Homo sapiens: one gene and its partners. The main gene of each other region encodes a partner of the protein of the gene in region 3 in a complex. Each region holds a gene or a part of one and is shown on either strand. Other genes may lie near its edges. The genes, in order: LATS2, LATS1 and NF2.

What was found.
Region 1: the proteins of NF2 (region 3) and LATS2 are in contact, whole or in part, in a crystal structure (PDB 4ZRI), measured with the Homo sapiens proteins. Residues at the interface, in NP_000259.1 of Homo sapiens: Pro135, Glu136, Ala137, Val139, Leu140, Tyr144, Asn175, Leu176, Tyr177, Gln178, Met179, Trp184, Arg187, Trp191, Glu206, Lys209, Ile210; in NP_055387.2 of Homo sapiens: Tyr73, Ala76, Leu77, Glu79, Ile80, Arg81, Ser83, Leu84, Leu85, Phe87, Ala88, Asn89.
Region 2: the proteins of NF2 (region 3) and LATS1 are in contact, whole or in part, in a crystal structure (PDB 7LWH), measured with the Homo sapiens proteins. Residues at the interface, in NP_000259.1 of Homo sapiens: Pro135, Glu136, Ala137, Val139, Leu140, Tyr144, Asn175, Leu176, Tyr177, Gln178, Met179, Met183, Trp184, Arg187, Trp191, Glu206, Ile210, Asp213, Leu214, Glu215; in NP_004681.1 of Homo sapiens: Pro69, Lys70, Phe71, Gly72, His74, Ala77, Leu78, Glu80, Ile81, Arg82, Ser84, Leu85, Phe88, Ala89, Asn90.

Annotation. Positions count from the first base shown.
Region 1 is NC_000013.11:21,058,587-21,066,507, forward strand, and holds the start of LATS2 (serine/threonine-protein kinase LATS2), read right to left. Parts: upstream 3,001-7,921; 5' UTR 2,760-3,000; intron 1,820-2,759; exon of another isoform or gene 1,544-1,819; intron 1-1,543. UniProt on the Homo sapiens protein: Negative regulator of YAP1 in the Hippo signaling pathway that plays a pivotal role in organ size control and tumor suppression by restricting proliferation and promoting apoptosis.
Region 2 is NC_000006.12:149,672,983-149,680,136, forward strand, and holds part of LATS1 (serine/threonine-protein kinase LATS1), read right to left. Parts: coding exon 6,893-7,154; coding exon of another isoform or gene 6,885-6,892; intron 5,764-6,884; coding exon of another isoform or gene 5,700-5,763; intron 3,756-5,699; coding exon 3,573-3,755; intron 3,385-3,572; coding exon 3,278-3,384; intron 1-3,277. UniProt on the Homo sapiens protein: Negative regulator of YAP1 in the Hippo signaling pathway that plays a pivotal role in organ size control and tumor suppression by restricting proliferation and promoting apoptosis.
Region 3 is NC_000022.11:29,690,633-29,697,632, reverse strand, and holds part of NF2 (merlin), read right to left. Parts: intron 2,882-7,000; coding exon 2,831-2,881; coding exon of another isoform or gene 2,824-2,830; 3' UTR 1-2,823. UniProt on the Homo sapiens protein: Probable regulator of the Hippo/SWH (Sav/Wts/Hpo) signaling pathway, a signaling pathway that plays a pivotal role in tumor suppression by restricting proliferation and promoting apoptosis.

The DNA of each region.
Region 1 (7,921 bases), on a different chromosome or scaffold from region 3:
CACTTAAACTATTTCAAACTCGATGGAGAAGCCAGAAGAATCCCTTCCAGTTCTATAATTCAATGATTCTAGTAATTCACCTTGGTAATTTTGCAAGACAGGCTAGCCTCTGCTCAGATACCTTAAACTGCCTGAGATTTGGAAAGTTATTAAATGTTCACCAACTTATATTCAAAGGAATGCTGGTATATTCATTACACTATTATTATATTCAGTGCCTTCTATACCTGCATGAGACAAAATTTTGTGAGACACTGACTTGTTAATTACAGTTAAATAGACGTCATAAACAGTTTATACGTTCTCATTTTGGAATATTTTTTCTGTTACTACCTTATTACAACGGTTGTTACAGAAAAAAAAAAAACATACAAAGCAGCTTACCAAAAATATACAACAAGATTTAGCACAAATTTCCTAATAATCAGCCATGAGTTACTTTTTCCATGATTAAGGGAAGGCCCCTCATCTTCTAAGTTAAAATTTTAAGCAAAACACTTGTGCAAGATCACACACATTTTTGTGATTTCCCATTCAAATTTCAGTATATTTGTTTCTTATTAAAATACGGGCAAACTTTCCTTTAAAAATGTACGTATTTGTTGAATACTTTGTGAAAAGAGCTGTTCAGCTATTAATTTGAATTTTTTACCGGCCAAATGTATACTCTATGGCTTAGTAGTTAAGGTGAAATAATTTTTTTAATGCTATTACATTAAAAACACTCTTGGCTGGGTGCGGTGGCTTACGCCTGTAATCCCAGCAGTTTGGGAGGCTGAGGCGGGCGGATCACAAGGTCAGGAGATTGAGACCATCCTGGCTAATACAGCGAAACCCCGTCTCTACTAAAAATACAAAAAATTAGCCGGGCGTGGTGGCACACGCCTGTAATTCCAGCTACTCGGGAGACTGAGGTAGGAGATCGCTTGAACCCAGGAGGCGAGGTTGCAGTGAGCCGAGATCGCGCCACTGCACTCCAGCCTGGGCGACAGAGCAAGACAACGTCTCAAAAAACAACAACAACAACAACAAAAAACACTCATATCCATCCTAGAGAAGCGTGAAAATGTAAAAGTTCTTGTTCAAAATTCTTGTCAGGTGGGGCGCGGTGGCTCACGCCTGTAATCCCAGCACTCTGGGAGACGGAGGCAGGTGGATCACCTGAGGTCAGGAGTTCGAGAGCCAGCCTGGCCAACACGGCGAAACCCGTCTCTACTAAAAAATACAAAATTAGCTGGGCTGGTGGCGCGGGCCTGTAATCCCAGCTACGTGGGAGGCTAAGGCAGGAGAATCGCTCGAACCTGGGAGACGGAGGTTGCAGTGAGCCGAGATCGCGCCACTCCCCTCCAGCCTGGGAGACAGAGCGAGATCTTGTCTTAAAATAACAACATTTTTGTCAAAAAAATCTGCAAGTTAAGTTCTTTCATGGTGATCCTCGCAAAATAGCATTTCTCATCCAAAGGCCTCAGAACAGCCGCCAGCCGCCGAGCTAACTCGGGACCCTGTTACCGGCTGCTTGGCGCCCTGGTCGGGTGGGTTTTACCTTCTTCAGGGTCCATTCCTCGCCTCGCCCCCCGTTCCCAACCCTCGGGACACTGGAGACTTGCATTTCACAAACGGGTTTGCTCCAGGCCGCACTCCATCCCCGAGGGAAAGCTCCCCAGAAGTTCTGGAGTTGGGCTGAAGGATGTGATGGCAAGATGTGAATGATGTCAGAATCCCCATCTCCAGAGTCCGGCTGGGGAGCTAAGCGCAGGTGAGCTTACATCAGAAGAGAAAGCCAAACCCCCCACACGTCGCTAAACTAGGGCACGGGAATGGCGTGTTATGCAACGGCCGCCGTTCGCGTGGCCACGAAAGCGCTCCTGCGCCTCGGGCCGCGTCCCGCCAAGACCGTGAGCAAACTCGCAGAGTTGGCGCGGCAGCCGGCCGGGAGACGCCGAGCAGGGCCTGGCCGCCCGCAGCCCGGGAGGAACGGCGCCCCCAGGGTCCGGTGGCCTCTGAGGGGCTGACTGGCCCGTGAGCCGGCGGCGCGGCCGCGGGGAACGGGGTGGGAACCGCGCGGCAGTGGGTGAGGCGGCGCAGCCACCGGGGGCTGAGGGGCGGCGCGGCCTCGACTGCGGCACCGCCGTGGGTCCGTCGGCTCGCGGGACGACGGGGCGGCCGGCGGGGGCCAACAGGGCGGGCTCTGAAGGACTGATTGGCCCGTGGGACGATGGCGCGGCCGGGAGGATGGCCCCGGATCCGTGGGACCGCTGCGCCGCCGGACCGGGGGTCCCGAGGCTGTCAGGGGCGCCCGGCCGGGCGTCTAGTGAAAAGCCGATCCCCCGGAGACAGCGGAAGCAGAGGCGCGCCCGGCGCTACGGCCTTTCGGGTCTAGGACACCGCCCCCGGCCCGCGCCGCCCCTGCCCCGCCGGGATCCCGGCCGCCCCGGTCGCCGCACAACAAAGCGGCGCAGCCCCGCTGCCCCCGCCCGACGCCGGCCTCCAACTTCCCCGGCTCCTCTGGAACCGGCTCCGCGGGCTCCGTACGGCCTGGACTACGAGCCGCCGGGCGGGGGCGGCTCCGGGCGGGCGCGGACCGTGGGGGCAGGGCGCAGGGCTCCGTCCGGACAAACTTCCTCGGCCGCCCCGCCGGGCGCCCTTCCCGGAGCCTCGGCACCACAGTAGGTGCGCGGAGCCGCAGGGCTCGACCGCTTCGCGGAAACTCTCGCCACCCTCCGAGCTGCCGCCCCGACCCCAGCTCCCAGCCCCCTCACCTCCAGGGGCGCGGTCTACACCCTCGGGGGCGTCCTGGCCGGCGGCTCCCGGGCCTCTCGCGCCGGGAGACCGGGCACTGGTGGCTGGAGCTGCTGCTGGCCCCGCAGGGACGGGGGAGCCCCGGGCGGCGGCGGTGGCGTGGACGGCGACTGCTCCATCTTCCCGGGGCGCTCACGCCGCGGTTCCAAAGCGCAGACCCAAGTGGGACATTCGCTACATTGTTGGCATTCCACGGGCGTCACGTGACCCCGCCTCCCGCGTCACTCTCGGCCGCATACCAGTCCGGGCGGGGCGCCTGCGGCCCCTGCTCCTCCGCGGCCGCTCCGCCCAGCCCCGCCCGGCCGTGCTTCCTGCCTCCGGCCTCGACCGCCACCTGCCCACGGCCTCCCTGCTGGCCTGCGGTAGCTCGCCAGGGCCTCTCGGACCTATTTGACTGGCTGCTATCTGCCCCCAAACTTGAGTATTTGCCCTCTCGACTGCATTTGTATTAAAAGTTGGTAACTGTCGTTAAAGCCACTATTCTTAAGTATCTCATACCAGTCTTGGTGAAAGAAAAAAAAAAGTTAGCAGGCCTGAAGGAGCCACCAAGTTACCAACTAGTGGCTGGACACTAAAAATAGGGGCAGAAAAGGACAGACGGCTATTGGGACAGTGGAATCAAACAATTAAGAAGGACGTTTGCCAGAAGCGGTGGCTCACGCCTGTAATCCCAGCACTTTGAGAGGTCTAGGCGGGTGGATCACCTGAGGTCGGGAGTTCGAGACCAGCCTGACCAACTTGGAGAAACCCCCGTCTCTATTAAAAATACAAAATTAGCCAGGCGTGGTGGCTCATGCCTGTAATCCCAGCTCTTCGGGAGGCTGAGGCAAGAGAATCACTGGAACCCGGGAGGCGGAGGTTGCGGTGACCTGAGATCGCATCATTGCACTCCAGCCTAGGCAAGAAGAGCAAAACTCCGTCTCAAAAAAAAAAAAAAAAGAACGTCTGATGCACACCCAAATTTAACCTGATTTAATTTAATCAACCTCCCCTCCCCATGTATATTTTCTTTCTGAGAAGTATTTTATGGTGTAGGGAATAGTATAGTACCGTATATACCAGCAAGTGAGGTCGTGGGTTTTGAACAGCTTCACTATCCATTTGAGGACTGTGGATCTGGTACAGGGACAGAAGCAGGGATGGTGCAAAGATTCACAGTAGAAATAATAGACTGGAAGCCAAATCCTCAGTCTACTTCTGGCTCTCCTAACATCATACTTCCTACCACCTATATCTGTGGCAAGTGATGCTGAGGGTCAATATAGTGTTTAAAGTCAACTCGATTTCCTCTTTAATTGACAAACTCTTGTGAAATTTTTAAATTTTACTCTCATGGGAAACAGTAGTAAAGGTCATTATCTGTGCACTATTTTGACAGTCTCACCCAGCCTTCAGTCCCTGGTTCATCCTCCTCCCCTCCCTCTCTTTCAATCTCTTAAGGCCTCAGCTCTTCCAGGGAATCTTCTCAGATCTCTGTTTTCTCTCTTCTTTGGGCTCTGATAATCAAACCGTAATCCCTTCCTGCCAGCAGAAGTGTGCAAAAAAAAAAAAAAGAAACCATCATCGTGCAGCTTAGAATTCAATTTAATTTTTCGATAGTATCCTGTATGCTACCCAGATATCTTGCACAGTACTGGGAGCAAAATAAGTCTCCAGCCAATATTCTGCAATTGAGCCCTACTGGCATTACCTATGTACTTTTCCACATTTTTTCCTTTTTTTCTTAGAGACAGAGTCTCACTCCATTGCCCACGCTGGAGTGCAGTGGCACAATCATAACTTACTGCAGCCCACATCAGCCTTGAACTCCTGAGCTCAAGCCATCCTCCTGCCTCAGCCTCTAGGGTAGCTGGGAACACAGGCGCACACCACCATGCTTGGCCTTCTTTTCACTCTTAAGCTGACTATACTTTCTCCACCCCAACCCCAAGCCACATGGCTGCTAATCTTTTTTTGTTGTGTGTTTAAAGATCCTGCTCCTGCTCTGCCTTCAAAGATGTAAAAATAATTTTTAAAACACTTGTGGAATGAAAAATATTATAAAATAGATTTAATGGACCTTAAAATTTGTGCATAAAATACCTAATAAAAATGTTGCAGTTACAATGATCATTTCAGCATTGTTTGCAGTAGTGAAAAATTGAGAAAAACCCCAAATGTCCAGTCAAGGGGTAGGAAAATGAAAGGTAGATATCCAAATGATGGAATATACACAGTAGCTAAGTTAATGAACTAGCTCTGTAGTTGTAAAGGATAAATGATGGTAGAAAGAATTCAAAAGCACTGTGGAGTGAAAAAAAGCAAGTTGCAGAACTATATATATACACTGTGATACCATATTTATAAATAATCAAAATCCCACAGAACCTAAAATGATCACATACTTTATATAAGTATAGACATAGAATGCAATATCACACACACCAAATTCATGACAGCTGTTGTTTATATTAGAGGGAAGGAGGGAAATTGAGCAGAGAAAAAAAATGAAGACTTCAACTTTACAATGCTTTCTTTTATTTAAAAAACGGAAATAAAACTCAAAATCTTAAAAGTTGTTGGTTCTGGGAGGTTGGGTTCAATAATGTGTGCTATACTATTCTTTGTGCCTTTTTTAAAAAACATTAAAAATTTTAAATTTTATATATATATATGAATACAGACAAATTGGAAACAAGTTTCCAAGATAGGGGCTTGGTTGGGAAAGCTGACACGCTCACATGGAAGAATGTTGTGATTAACGATTTGTGTTTATTAACATGCAGTCATTCATTCCTTCTCATTTTTGTTTGTTGTTGTATGTTTGGGTTTTTGTTTTGTTTTCTGTTTTGTTATCGGTACCTGCTATGAACCATGTGCTAAAATTAAAAAACCCATGTTTGGGTTTTTGTTTTGTTTTGTTTCTGTTTTGTTTTGTTATTGGTACCTGCTATGAGCCATGTGCTAAAATAAATCATACTTGGGATAACATGGTAAGCAAAACCATAAGATTTATCCCCTGATGGGGTTTATAGTGTGGTAGAGGTAGAGGTGTTCAAGAAAAACACATGCTGGGCATGGTGGCTCATGCCTGTAATCCCAGCACTTTGGGAAGCTGAGATGGGTGGATCACTTGAGGCCAGGAGTTCGAGACCAGCCTAGCCAACAGAGTAAGATCCCATCTCTACTAAAAACAAAAAAAAGAAAGGAAAAACAGCAACAATATAAGTTTATTTTATATGTATATACAATAAACTATGTACACATGTATATTTTTTAAACTATTTTTAAAGCCCAGAAAATTACACAGCCAAATGTTAAAAGTGGTAGTCTCTGGATGTAGTGTAGTGATTCTGAATGGTTTTGTCTTATACTTCCTGATACTTCTATAGTAGGATAGTTAACATAATTTTTTTTCTTTTTTTCTTTTTCTTTTTTTTTTTTTGAGATGGAGTCTTGCTCTGTCGCCCAGGCTGGAATGCAATGGTGAGATATCAGCTCACTGCAACCTTGCAACCTCCATCTCCCGGGTTCAAGCAATTCTCCTGCCTCATCCTCTGGAGTAGCTGAGATTATAGGCATGCTCCACCATGCACGGCTAATTTTTGTATTTTTAGTAGAGATGGGGTTTCACCATGTTGGCCAGGCTGGTCTCGAAATCCTGACCTCAGGTGATCTGCCTGCCTTGGCCTCCCAAAGTGCTGGGATTACAGGCTTCAGCCACCATGCCTGGTCCAGAAAATGTTTTAAAGTTAATCAGTTAAATAAGCACATCTACATAATGTATCTAGCTGAGAAGAGGAGAAAAAGAGACAACACAAGACCAGCTGAGCATAGAGCGGACAGTAGTAACAAAATTGGAGTGTATAAATTAACTGACATAGTATATACATATGTGTATGTGTGTGTCCTTATTCTATACCAAGTATTGCTCTAAATTTGTATATTATATCATTTAATTCTCAAAACGACCATGTTATTCAACCCATTTTATAAAAAAGGATCCTGAAATGCAGACGGCTCAAGTAACTTGTCCAAGATCAAAGAGCAGAGATTCAGACCTTCATAGATCTAACTCCAGAGATTGGAAACACTGAATTATAATGCCCTCTCTAGATAATCTCAAGAAGTCATGAGGCTGGGCATGGTGGCTCACGCCTGTAATCCCAGCACTTTGGGAAGCTGAGGCTGGTGGATCATGAGGTCAGGAGTTCGGGACTAGCCTGGCCAAAATGGTGAAACCCTGTCTCTACTAAAAATACAAAAATTAGCTGGGCGTGGTGGCAGGCACCTGTAATCCCAGCTACTCGGGAGGCTGAGGTAGGAGAATTGCTTGAACCCAGAAGGTGGAGGTTGCAGTGAGTGGAGACCAAGCCACTGCACTCTAGCCTGGACAACAGAGCAAGACTTCATCTCAAAAAAAAAGTAAAAAAAAAGGCACATGATTACAACATACTCATAAGTAAGGAAACTGAAAACAAATTACTCCCTTATACTTCCTCTGAAAGGGGAATGGACTTTGTGGAGTGAGGAAGAGGGGAACTCAGAGACTTGTGTCTCCAGCCTCAACCAAAGCAGAGAACGATTCCAGGCCTAGCAGACACAGAGAATCCACTTGCTTGTGAGGCCTCTGCAGTTGTGAAGCCAGGATAGTGTAGGGGTTCTCTCCCTAAGGCTCCTATAGAATATCAACTATGGCTGGGTACGGTGGCTCACACCTGTAATCCCAGCACTTTGGGAGGCCGAGGCGGGCGGATCCCTTGAAGCCAGGAGTTCTAGACCAGCCTGGCCAACGTAGCGGAACCCTTTCTCTACTAAAAATACAAAAATTAACCAGGCATGGGGGTACATGCCTGTAATCCCAGCTACTCAGGAGACTGAGGCACGAGAATCGCTTGAGCCCAGGAAGTGGAGGTTGCAGTGAGCCGAAATGGCGCCACTGCACTCCAGCCTGGGCGACAGAGCCAGACTCTATCTCAAAATAAAATAAAATAAAATCTGCCTAACTACAGAAGAATGTTCTCTATGGGCAGTAGCATAAAAATAGAATAGGATCAGATCATGCAAGACCCAGACAACCGAGAAGAAAACGGAACATCGACTTGTTTCATTTGTTTTAGAGTCGTTTTATATCCATATACAG
Region 2 (7,154 bases), on a different chromosome or scaffold from region 3:
GTTATTCTTGTACTTTACACCTATAGATTCCCTGGGATTTTCTATATAGAAAATTATATCATTTTTGAATAGGGGAAGTTTTTATTTTTTACTTCTTCCTTTTCTTTTCTTTTCTTTTTTTTTTTTTTTTTTGAGATAGGATCTTACTCTATTACCCAGGCTGGAGTGCAGTGGTATAATCATGGCTCACTGCAGCCTTGACCTCCCCAGGCTCAGGTGATCCTCCCACCTCAGCCTCGTGAGTAGCTGGGACTACAGGTGCACACTGCCATGCTCGGCTAATTTTTCTATTTTTTTTGTAGAGACACGGTTGCGCCATGTTGCCCAGGCTGGTCTCCAATTCTTGGCTCAAGCAATCCACCCGCCTTGGCTTACCAAAGTGCTAGGATTACAGGCATGAGCTACCGCGCCCAGCCCTTTTATTTCTTTTCATTGCTGTATTATGCTGGCTAAGATTCCAGAACATAGAATTGATGAGAATGGACATTCCTGCCTTGTTCTCAACCTTAGGGAGAAAGCATACAATTTTTTTTCTCTCTCTCATACACCTACACACAAATATATTCAAATGAAGACAAAATAAAGATAATTTCAGACATACCTGAGACAAACCTGAGAGAATGCCTTATCAGCAGACCTATACTATAAAAAATCCTAAAAGAAGTTTTAAAATGTAAAACCATTTCTTTTTTTTCCTTTTTTTTTTTTTGAGATAGAGTCTCACTCTGTCGCCCAGGCTGGAGTGCAATGGCGCGATCTCGGCTCACTGCAACCTCTGCCTCCCAGGTTCAAGGAGTTCTCCTGCCTCAGGGCCTCCATATAGCTGGGACTACAGGTACCAGCCACCATGCACGGCTAATTTTTGTATTTTTAGTAGAGACGGGGTTTCACCATGTTGGTCAGGCTGGTCTCGAACTCCCGACTTCAGGTGATCCACCCGCCTCAGCCTCCCAAAGTGCTGGGATTACAGGCATGAGCCACCACACCCGGCTAATGTAAAACCATTTCTATATTAAATGCAATGACTGAAGAAGTTATAGCTTAAGAAAGGTGGAAATCAAAGAAACGATGGAATCTCAGGAAACTCTCAAAGAATAATTTGTTTTTTTTAGACAGAGTTTTGCTCTTATTGCCCAGGCTGGAGTGCAATGGTGTGATCTCAGCTCACTGCAACCTCTGCCTCCTGGGTTCAAGCAATCCCCGTGCCTCAGCCTCCCAAGTAGCTGGGATTACAGGGGCGCGCCACCACACCCAGCTAATATTTGTATTGTTAGTAGAGACAGGGTTTCACCATGTTGGCCAGGCTGGTCTCAAACTCCTGACCTCAGGTGATCCACCTGCCTTGGCCTCCCAAAGTGCTGGGATTATAATAGGTGTGAGCCACCACACCCAGCCAAATTTTTTATTTTTTGAGATGGGATCTCACTCTGTCACCTAGGCTGGAGTGCAGTGGCACAAATATGGCTCACTGCAACGTCTCCTAGGCTCCAGTGACCCTCCAACCTTAGCCTCCCAGGTAGCTAGGACCACAAATATGCATTACCATGCCTGGCTAAGTTTTTTGTATTTTTTGTACAGAGGGGGTTTCACCATGTTGCCCAGGCTGGTCTCAAACTCCTGGGCTCAAGTGATCTGTCTGCCACGACCTTGCAAAGTGTTGGGATTACAGGTGTGAACCACTGCACCCATCCCAGCACTTTGGGAGGCTGAGGTGGGTGGATCACTTGAGCCCAGGAGTTTGAGACCAGCCTGGGCAACATGGCAAAACCCTGTATCTACAAAAAATACAAAAAAAAATGCACCTGCGGTCCCATCTACCCAGGAGGCTGAGATAGGTCATTTGAGCCAGGAGACAGAGGTTGCATGAGAGGAGATCACGCCACTGCATTACACCCTAGGTGAAATGTTTTGACCTTATCTCAAAATAAATAAAGTGCTGGGATTACAGACATGAGCCATCATGTCTGGCCCTCAAAGAATAATTAAGAATGATCAGGAGGCCGAGGCGGGCAGATCACAAGTTCAGGAGATTGAGACCATCCTGGCCAACACGGTGAAACCTCGTCTCTACTAAAAATACAAAAACTAGCTGGGTATGATGGCGCATGCCTGTAATCCCAGCTACTCGGGAGGCTGAGGCACGAGAATTGCTTGAACCCAGGAGGCAGAAGTTGTAGTGAACTGAGATCACGCCACTGCACTCTAGCCTGATGACAGAGCAAGACTCTGTATCAAAAAAAAAAAAAAAAAGAGAGAATGACCAAGAGTTAATTAGACTTCAGAAAGGAGGAAGGGTTATAGAAGAGAGAGATGGAAGTAGGACATTCCAGACAGAGGGAACGGTATGAACAGAGGGCAAATTTCAACTTTAACCCACGGACAATCACTAAAGAGTATTAAATCAGACAGTGTATGGTCAAAATTGTGGGTAACTTCTCATTTAAGTGCCAGAGGTATTTTCAAGTGGGGATATAAACATTTGTTTGTAGTTTGCATAGAAGGAGACAAGGCCAGGAGGCAGTAGGTGACAAAGAGTAAACTGGACTAAATCTTCAAAATGGACTAAAGACCTTTTTGTTTTGTTTTGTTTTGTTTGAGGAGTTTCGCCCTTTCACCCAGGGTGGAGTGCGATGGCAAGATCTTGGCTCACTGCAACCTCCGCCTTCTGAGTTCAAGGGATTTTCCCGCCTCAGCTTCCCAAGTAGCTGGGATTACAGGCGCCTGCCACCACACCCCGCTAATTTTTGTATTTTCAGTAGAGACGGGGTTTCGCCATGTTGGCCAGGCTGATCTCAAACTCCTGACCTCAGGTGATCCACCCGCCTACACCTCCCAAAGTGGTAGGATTACAGGCATGAGCCACCGTGCCTGGCCTAAAGACCTTTTTGAGAATGATATATGATATATGAGTATGCTGTATGAGTGAGGGGGGATACAAGATTATGGGGATATGGCATCATGGAGACTGGAGTTCACGCATGCAATTCTGGTGAGTTCCTATACCCTTACAAGTTCATTCTTTTCCTTTTTTAAATTAAAAAATATTTGTTTGTAGAGATGTGGTCTCACATTGTTGCCAGGCTGATCTTGAACTCCTAGGCTCAAGCAATCCTCCTGCCTCAGCCTCCCAAAGAACTGGCATTATGGGTGTGAGCCACTGCACCCGGCCCAAGTTCATTCTTTAACTCCAGACTAAAATGCTCTACGTACTAATAAATAAAAGTCAATGATGTAGCAACTTTGTGAGAATTCTTTTGATATAGATGCCATACCTTACCTTCATTTGTGTTTCTAATGGTGTTTGTGCCAAGAAAGGAGGTTGTCCCACCAACATTTCAAAAAGAATAACACCAACACTCCACCAATCACACAACTGTGTGTATCCTAAAATAACAAAGTTATTTATAAGCACTTTAAAAATGCTCAGAATACAATAAAAATTAACATTAAATCACCAATTTATACTTTAAAATTAATACTTTTATTATAAGCCTGAAAAATAAGGCATATTCTAGTGTCGTTTTGGCTGGTCTAAAGGTCTACTGAGAATATATATGAAAGAAGTGCTTTACCTGTTCGTAGCAACACTTCAGGTGCAATATAATTGGGAGTCCCAACCAAAGAATGTGCTAGACATCGCTGGTGCTGGCGTGCAGCTCTCCGCTCTAATGGCTTCAGTCTGTCTCCACATCGACAGCTTGAGGGATCCCCCCATTCATTACTGAAATCCATGCTATCTTGCCGTGGATGGTCACCTGCACAACAAAAGAATAAGTAAATAAAGTCAACAATGACAACAGTAAACCTGAAGTCTATTTAATCTTCTGACATCGTGGTTTAGGGTTAACAACATTCTCCCTTGTGACAAACTAAGACACAATGTATGCCAAATCACTGATGGTGTTTATTACCAATTAGAGCCTATTTTCTGAGATGTCAATAGGAAGGATTTTACACTTAAAAAAAATTAGCCTAAGATTTAGTAATTTATGCAATGTTAAATAACAACAATATGAGTCATGGGGAGATTAAGAGTTTGTTATTTAGCCCACTCCCTGTTACTACTCTGGACAAACTTTCAAACAAATTAGATCCATCTTTCATTCAATAAATGACAGTGATAATAAGACAAAGCTCTGGTTACATTCTAGTAGGAAAAGAAACAAAACAATTACACATATAAGGAACAGTGACATACCCTACACAGAGAATCAACACAGGGTGATGTAACAAATGTGACTGGATAGCTACATAAGACTGAATGGCTAGGGAAGACCAGTTAAGAAGGTGACTTCAGCTAAACCGTAAAAAAACAAGAAGGACTCAACCATTTATAAATCAGGATTAGGTATTCCACACAGAAATAACAGCAACAGAGAGAAGACCAGCACAGCTGATAAAGGGGAGAACTGTAGGAAATGGGGCAAGAACTGTAAGAAATGCGGCAGGAATACATGTGGGTTTTGCAAGCAATAGAAATGGTCTGCCTTTTACCTCAAGTAAAGTGAGAAGATATTGCAGAGTTCGAAGCAAGAAGATAACAGTATCTGATTTATGCTTAAAAAAAAAAGTTCTTTATGGGTCATGTGAAGTTTGAAAGGCCTATTTGAAATCCATGTGAAGATAGCCAGGAAGCAGCTGGATAGAGAAATTACGAATTTCAGAGAAAGGCCATTTCTGGAGAGAGAGATTTGGAATTCATTGACATATAGATGGCATGAAGTCACCTAGAATATAAGAAATTAACCTAACTGTAATATTTATCTGGGATGTTTGATTAAAATATGATTTCCCTTTGGGAGGCCAGGGAGGGTGGATCATGAGGTCAAGAGATTGAGACCATCCTGGCCAACATGGTGAAACCCCATCTCTACTAAAAATACAAAAATTAGCTGGGTGTGGTGGAGCACACTTGTAATTCCAGCTACTTGGGAGGCTGAAGCAGGAGAATCGCTTGAGCCCAGGAGATGGAGGTTGCAGTGGGCCGAGATCGCGCCACTGCACTCCAGCCTGGCAACAGACCAAAACTCCGTCTCAAAAAAAAAAAAACAAACAGGCTGGGCGTGGTCGCTCACGCCTGTAATCCCAGCCACTTTGGGAGGCAGAGGCAGGCAAATCATGAGGTCAGAAGATTGAGACCGTCCTGGCTAACACGGTGAAACCTGGTCTCTACTAAAAATCCAAAAAAAAAAAAAAAAAAAAAAAAAAAAAAATAGCCGGGCGTGGTTGCCGGCGGCTGTAGTCCCAACTACTCGGGAAGCTGAGGCAAGAGAATGGCGTGAACCTGGGAGGCAGAGCTAGCAGTGAGCCGAGATTGCGCCACTGCACTCCAGCCTGGGCAACAGAGCGAGACTCCGTCTCAAAAACAAACAAACAAACAAACAAAAAACAACAAAAAGATTTCTATGCCCCAGTGAAGATTTTTGATCAAAAGATGGGAATAGAGCCTAGGAATCATATTTTTAAGAAGCTTTCCAGGTAATAATTCAGTCGAATCTGGGAAGACACTAAATTCCACTATGTCGAACATTAAAGTAGGTTCAATTGTCTCAGTTCTACCCATTTTAATGTCAATCTACTTGTGTTCACAGAAGCACAGGAGGCTAATAATACTTACCTCAGAGAATTGTTGCGAGCATATTAGAATATATGGTTAAGCACCTAGTACATAGTATTTAACAAATGTTAGATTGACTTACACTTCCATTAGCGCTTGGAGGGATCTTGGTGAGGCAGTGTGGTGTAGTAGAAATAACATGGGCCCTGAAATCAGACAAACCTGGGTTCAAAGCCTAGCCCTTACACTTGATTTCTGTCTGACCTTGGGCAAGTTACTTCATCTAACTAGGTCTCAGTTTCTTCATCCTGCCTCACAGTGACATTGTGAGGATAAAATAGGATCAAGGATCATAAAGTGTTTAGGGTTATATAAGTTGTGTAACAGTCATGTAATGAAATCCTAAATAGTAGTGAAAATAAATGTTACAAGCAATAACATGGAGGAACCTCAAACAAGTCAACACAAAGAATATATATAGATTATATTTAAATAAAGGTTAAAGAGTAGGCAAAATGAAATAATATATTATTTAAAGATATACACATTTGTGATAAAAGGATCGATAAAAGTAAAGAACCGATTATAAAGTTCTGAAATAATAATTATCTTTGTGGAGGAGAAAAGGGGAAGTGATTGTTTAAGGGCTTCTAAAGTACTGATAATCTAGTTCTTTAACTGAATGTTGGATATGAGGATTCATTAAAAAATTATTTTAAAAATGTTTTTGGCCAGGCGCAGGGGGCTCACACCTATAATCTCAGCACTTTGGGTGGCTGAGACAGGTGGATCACCTGAGGTCAGGAGTTCGAGATCAGCCTGGCCAACATGGTGAAACCCCATCTCTATTAAAAATACAAAAATTAGCCGGGCGTACTGGCAGGTGCTTATAATCCCAGCTACTCGGGAGGCTGAGGCAGGAGAATCACTTGAACCCAGGAGGGGGATATTGCAGTGAGCCAAGATGGTGCCACTGCACTCCAGCCTGGGCGACAGAGCGAGACTCCATCAAAAAAAAAAAAAAAAAAAAATTGTTTGTCTGGCATATTTTCAAATAAAATGTAAAAGGTGTGACTCAAAAATGTTAATAATATTTAGAAACAATCAAGTCTAGCACATTCTTTCATTTCATAAGTCTAAACAATCAAGTCTAGCACATTCTTTCATTTCATAAGTCTAAGTGCCTAATGGAGTCACCCAAGTTTATCCAACAGAATCAAGACCTGACCCACATCTTCTGGCTCTCATCCAGTGATGATACCATCTTATATTTTACTACATCAATAAATTACATTATTATGAACAAACTAAAATAAATTTTATGAGTTTACTTACCACTCTGATAGTACTTAGAATCGTGTGTCCATCTGAAGCCAGTGCAGAGGCCAAAGTCAGTCAATTTAATATGACCATCACGATCAATCAAAATATTATCAGGTTTAATATCTCTATGAATAAAACCCATTTTATGAACACTTTCAACTGCACAGGTAAGTTCTGCTATGTAGAATCGTGCCAGACTTTCTGGAAAGATGCCCATTCTAATTAATAGGCTCATCATATCACCCCCAGGAATGTAGTCCATTACAAAGTATAA
Region 3 (7,000 bases):
ATCACGCCATTGCACTCCAGCCTGGGCGACAAAGGCAAAAACTCCGTCTCAAAAAAAAAAAAAAAAGGATGCAGTCATCCCAGCCACAGGAACCAGTCTGTGAAAACCAGGCATCTCTTTCTTTCTTTCTCCTGCTACTGGGGCTTGAGATGCTCCTGAGGCCCATCCTCCTCTCCACCTTCTCCATCTGTGGGGAGGCACCTCAGTATTCCTGCCTCAAGGAGGGGGAAGTGCTCCTGGCTGAGCAAGGTCCTGCAGTTCCCAGCCTGCTCCCTGGAGCCCCAGGTGCTTCTGCCACAGCTCAAACACCAGCCAGCTCCCTTGAGGCCGCGTGGCTTGGCACTTCCCAGACTTCAGAAGTAGACACGGCAGCTAAAGAAGGAAACAAAGCCCGACAGCGTTTTTATAAACCACCATATGCTCCCACCTGCAGCCATTGTTAAAGAACAAATTTACAGGTCAGGAGGAAAGTAACTCCTGGTGGAAATCCAGGGATGGGCTTCAAGACTGAGAAGAGACCGGGCATGGTGGCTCACGCCTATAATCCCAGAACTTTGGGAAGCCGGGGTGGGAGGATCACCTGAGGTCAGGAGTTCGAGACCAGTCTGGCTAACATGGCGAAACCCCATCTCTACTAAAAATACAAAAATTAGCCAGGCATGGTGGCACACGCCTGTAGTCCCAGCTACTCGGGAGGCTGAGGCAGGAGAATCTCTTGTACCTGGGAGGCGGAGGTTGCAGTGAGCTGAGATCGTGACACTGCACTCCAGCCTGGGCGACAGAGCGAGACTCCATCTCAAAAAAAAAACAGAAACAGAAACAGAAAAAAAAAAAAAACGGAGGAGGCAGAGCCAGACCTCACTTTACAAACGCCTGAAGCTTCCGCTCCTGGCTGGGTCACACTAGGAAGACACAGGGCCACAACATCCATACTTACGCTCTAGGTCTGGAGTCCCACCCTGTAGACCCTAAGTGGCTGGGTGGCACCCAGGGCTGGTTTCCTTGGGGCAAGGTGACCCAAGCAGTTGCCGAGCAGCCCAACCCCATTAGGTCAGCCTGATAGTAGGAAGAAGGCAGGATCTCTGTGCTCTGTGAGCTGCTAAGTTTCTCAAAACCAGATGGAATTGCCAGAGACCACCTCTGCTCTCCAAAAATCTTGAGGCCCCCATAGCCTCTATCTTTTATCTGATTAAGACAAATCACCTGCTTTGCATAACAGCCAAACTGGAAGGATCTCAAGGGCCCTGGCTGGCCACAGCAGCATCAGCCATGGAGAAAAGAAAGGGCAAGAAGGGGCTGGGTGCAGTGGCTCATGCCTGTAATCCCAGGTGTGAGTTTGAGACCAGCCTAGCTAACATGGCAAAACCCCGTCCCTATTAAAAATACAGAACATTGGCCAAGTGTGGTGGTGCATGCCTGTAGTCCCAGCTACTTGGGAGGCTGAGGCAGGAGAATTGCTTGAACTCAGGAGGTGGAGGTTGCAGTGAGCCGAGATTGTGCCACCACACTCCCACCTGGGTGACAGAGAGAGACTCCATCTCGGAAAAAAAAAAAAAAAAAAAAAAAGAAAGGGCAAGAAGGTGGCCCCAGACCAAGGAGTGAGCCGTGGGGGTGGTTCTGTGGCCCTCTGTTGCCTGGCATGGAGGTGGGTCCTGTGACAGCCTAGGTGAGCGCCACCTGTGAGTGGACACCTGCATCAGGCCTGTGCTGGGAGGGGCACAAAGGGCCCTGGCTGGCCCCCAGGGAACAGAAAATTCAGGGCCCGAAGAGGGACAAGGGCAACAGCAAAGTGAGGCCTGGGTACAACAGTGGGTTGGGAAGTGGGCTGTGGCCACTGGCACGTGGCTGGGAGGGAAGGTGAAGCAGATGGGCCGTGCAGACTGGGCCGGTGGAGCTCAGAGTCTGGGCCAGTGAGAAGCAGCACCTGTGGAGCCACAGGGCTTACAGATCCCTGGTCATAGCCGGGTTACGGGTGCTGACTGCAGTACGACCAGGGAGTACCCCAGCCCCACACAGGAAGGAGCGTCTATGGGCGTCGGGCAATGGGGAAGACATGAGTGGCTCCTGCCTGCCTCTCGGACCCTGGTCTAGGGTGGCCGGAGGGGGACAGCGAGTGCCCTGTACCATCAGCTCCCGCACGGCACTACCCAGCCCCTCGGCTGGCAGTCAGCCTGCATCACAGCTTCTGCCTAAAGTCTCTCCCCAGCCACAGCTGCCCTGCCTATTCCCCACCAGCTGCCAGCCAGAGCGCCGCCTCGGGGTGCCTGGCGGGGACCCAGCACTTGCTCGTCACGAGCTCTGGGCGGGCTCCCTGACGATGAGAAGCCGGCAGGCGTGCTGGCCTGGGATCCGCCGGGCTGGGCTGCTTCGCTGCATGCCAGGTCCTCACCGGTGGGGGAATGAATGTTCCGGAACCCTGGGCGGGGTGGGGATGATGGCACTGGCTTCTCAGGGCTTCAGTGTCTCACTCCCTACAATGACTTCCCAGGCTGGGCGGTGGAGGTCAGCTCTGGAGTGCAAGACACACACACACCGGTGCCTTGGACGAAGGGAGTCAGGAATCCCACATTAGACAAAGGAAGACAAATACTTCTTAAAACAAAGACTCAGGTCAGAGAACTAGAACGCCATGAGAGAAATCTCTACAGGGTCGTAGTTCAAGGCAATTGCACATAAGAGGGGCTGGGCTCTTCACTCAGCTGGGGAAAGTTCTGGAGCTCCCACGGAAACCCCCAGCCAGCTCCCTATGGATGGCTCTCTTGATATCTGGTCCATCCCGCGGTCCCGGTAGCAGGAGAAGTGGCAGGTCCTGGGGTGGCTGGGTCACCTGCTAGAGCTCTTCAAAGAAGGCCACTCGGGACTTGGCGCTCTGCAAGGTGAGCTGTAAGAAAGCAGAGAAGAAGCTGAGAGGGCACAAGACCTCCGCTCTGTCACACAGGGTCCTGTCCTGCCACTTGGACTCACCTCAAAGGTGGCTGGGAGCGAAAGGGAAGGCTGTTCAAATAGATGCTCAAGAAGTTGGCTGTCAGTCCCAAATAAGCGGCCAGATTTGCCCAATAATTCAAATTAGGAGGTGACAAATGAGGATGTGCAAGGGGAAGGCTGGTGGGCAGAGGCACGCCAGCAGGAAAAAGCCGTCAGCATTGCCTCTTGACAGAGGACCGGAGATCCCTGCCTATTTTAATAGATTCTCACATTCCCATCTACCAAGGTCCCTGAGCCACCTCTGTGGTGTGCTGTCTGTGGCGGCACCAGCTGAGGCTGCTCATCCCCTCCGGGCTTGGCAGGGCAAGCATCTTAGTCCTCATGCCCTGGCAACATGGCTGGGGTAAGGTGACGTGGCCTGAGGCAAGGCAGGCCTGTGGCAGATGAGGAAGAGTTTACCCCTTCTACTCCTGGTTTCCCAGGTGGTCCCGAAGCAAACTTGCTCATGACGTGGCAGCTGAGAAGGTGTTTCTCTCCATGAGCTGGAGGCAACGGCTTTCTCAGTGTGGCTTGTGCAGGCAGGGAGGGCTGGTGCACACAGGTGGCACTCTGCCCAGCAAATGTAAAGAAGGACAGTCAGGGAGATGTGGAAGGGGATGGGGTGGATCAGGGACCGAGCTCTTGGCATAGTGAGGTTTGCAACCTCCTAAGCCCTTGACTCTGGGCCACTTCCCAGCATCTCCCTGGATAGAAGCATCTGGAGCCAGCACTCTCCCTACTCCCTGCTCTCTGCTGACTCCTGAAATCAATGCCTTGGGTGTGACTGTGTTCCATTTCCAGCTCCGGGACTTCCCACAGGAGTGCGGGGGTGGAGGGGAGGGAGTCTGTACCATTCATCTTCATATCCCCCAAATATCTGGCTTAGTGTTATGTGCCGATCAGGAGCTCAATGTTTGTTAAGCGACCAGGACGTGGGCTATGAAGATAACTAAACTGAGGTTCGCGGGAGAGGCAAGAGCTCCACACCCGGCTGAGAAGGTCCGAGAGCTCACTCTCTGCCATCAGCAGCTCACTGCAGACACCCCTGACCTCTCTGAGCCTCTTTCCTCTGGAGGTTGCCATGGGGCAGGCAAGATGGTCTGGCCCATTCTCTGGACCCCTCGAGTCTGCATGTGAAGAGTCCTCGGTACTATCGGCGGCTCCATAAAGGGCAGGGGAGGGAGACTCCAAACCCACCACTTCACCATCAGAAGACAGACAGCATTAGTGTGCTCAGAATGAGACAGCTTGAGAGCAACTCTTTAAATCCTGCCAAATCTTTTGGCCTTGAAGTTCCCGACTAACAAGCGGAATGTGGGGAGGCAGCTCAGCTGCCTTCTTCAGTGGAACCAATTTCAGAGCCCTTTGGAAAGCCCGGTTCTGATGGGAATGGAGAGCGCTTTTTTGCCTAAATGGAACTCCCTCTAGAAGGGAGCTGCATCAGGATGGGCTTCTCCCTAAATGTAATCAGAGGAGAAGGGCCAGGAGTTATGTGCCCTGTGATGATGGGAACCAGAATGGTCACTGGGGAAGAAAGGAGGAAGAGATTTAGCTGCCAGATAACTACTGGGGCAAAAATGAGAGAGGGTTTAAATGAAAGCATGTGAGCCCAGTATCTCCGCTCAGGTTTCTGAAAAGAACAGCCACTTTGAGTCAGATACAGGCACAGTCAGCTGCCTGGTGCAAGGCCCAGCTGGGCCACTGACCAGCTGTGTGGCCCTGGGCAGGTCACTTGCTCCCCTCTAGCCTCAGTTCCTCACTGTGAAGCGGGCGTGATGGCAGCCCCTTCCTCGTGGGGTGACAGGCAGAGGAATTGGGAACCGCGTGTGATGCACTCAACACTGCACCTGGCGCATGGTGGGAACTCGGCAGCTGTTATTGCTAATAGCAACATCACGTTTCTCCCCTCCCTGGGGAGGGAGGAGCCCTGGCCCCTCTCCTTCCAGTGGGGAGCAGGGTGCTCGTTAGGAAGGGGTGCAGGCAACAACAAGGTCACGTATGGCACTGGCCTCCATGCCTACCAGGCGGGCCAAGTGATGCCCCTATGAAGCCTGGCCACTTCCCCAGGCAGGGAGCCCAGGCTGTGGGGGCCTTGAGAGGCTCCTGCCCATTTGTGCAATGTTGGCTCCAAGAATTCCTGGATCCTCCACCCGAGGAGCATGCTGGCTGTCCCCTCGAGGTGCTAGGGGAGGGTTCTGGCACTGCCAGCAGCACCAGATTCCAGTGACTCGAGCATGTGCTTATTAGGATGCAGAGTGCTCTGGGGTGGGTGGGGTGCTTCCTGAGCCCCACCTGAGCTGCACTGCAGCGCCTCAGCCCCACCTCTTATCTTGCAAGAGCAGGAGCTTCGCCTCAGCCACAAGTAAAGGTAGAGAGGGAAATCAGTCTGCCCACACAGAAGTAGGAAGGCACCACAGCCACTGGGCAGGAGAGAGAGCCACAGTCCTCCAGAAGGCACTGAGGCGGTCAGAGGGGAAGGCAGACCCACCAGCTGGAGGCAGCCACGACCTGGCTGCACTGGTCAGCAAGGGCTGCTGCCCGAGGGCCCTGGGAGCCTTCGGCCACTGCTGCTCGCCCCTTAGACAGACCTGGCTGCTGCCGCCCCATCCTTTACCCTCATTGTGCAATTCCTATGGGTTCCAATCCCCACAGGAGCCCCGGAGTCAGAATTTACTGCACAATGCTCCTCCCTGCTGCTGGAGGCCACCCCCATGGCTCTGCTTCCACCTTGGGGGTATCCTTTATCTCAGACACCACAATGCCCTCCTCCCAGCAGGTGAAGAAGGCAGGCAGTGAGACGAGGAGAGCCCTTGAGCTTCTTTCCTGCAGGTAGCAGCTCAGTGGAGCCATTTGCCCTCAGGCAGTTTTTCTACAGAGAGCTTGGGAAGCCACCCCGCGGAGCATGCAAACAGCTCTGCCACCTGCACGCCCTGCCTGGGCACTGTCTCGCCCCTCCAGTGGGCAGGCTCCTCACCTGTGGATCTTTCACCATCTGCTGCTTCTAGAAAGCTCACTGGCTGTTACATTTACAGTACACCCATAGGCAGGAAGTATTCATAAAGGAAAAGGCAAAAGCTCAGAAGAAATGGCAAAAAGCTAGCCCTTCATAAAATAAACTCTGCCTCCGAGTCTTCTTTTTAAACACATGAAAACCAGCTAACAAGTTTCCTGGTTCCCCTGCGATGCTCTCATACCCTAAGGTGTGCAGGCCCATCAGTGTTAGGTACATCTTCCTGCTCAGCAACCGGCCTGGGTCCCTCTACACTGCCCAGCAACACCTGCTTGCTAGAGCCAGAAGAGGCCTCCCAAGAAGGCCTTCACCTTGTCCTATGTTGCACTGTGAGTTGAGCACTGAAGCCACTCTGGTGAGTCCCATTCCCACCCTGAATTCCAAACAAAAATGTCCATGCTCCCTTTGGCAATCCAGCAACAGCCCTCCCCTTGCCCAACCTTGCCTGCCTGGGGAGTGGAGTCCCCCCAGGAGGGCGGGGAATTCCTCGCATGCACAATGAGTATCTTGAAGGTTATCCAGGAAGAAGAGGTCTCCAAATTTCAGCAGGTAATGAAGCAGAAGCACCTCAGGGTGTACAACCAGGGTCTCGAGGACAGTGGCTGCACCAGTCTGGGACTTGCCAAGTCTGGTCAACTGCCTTTGAATCCTTCTGAAGACAAGTGAGCCAAGCTCTGGTGAACCTGACCAGTGACGTCTGTCATGCACTGTCCTTCAAAACTTTCACTGAATCTAGACAAGGTCCAACCATGGGAGTCCCGCAGCCAGGCCCAGTTCCTTGGGCAGGCTATAAACCCAAGGGCCCTGCTCAGAGTCTCCAACCCAAAGCGCTCCTGCCAGTTCCCTGAAGATGCCTACAAGAACATGAAGCCTCCGCACCAGGCATGGGCTGACCCGCTGCTCTCCTCCAGCTGTCTCTTCACATCTGATTAGAATCAGCCGTGTGAATAACACAGGAGGAATTAAGTTCTCTCTCGACTGAACCGGCTGCTCAAGTCTGTCACTAATCCAATTCCATTCTGAGGA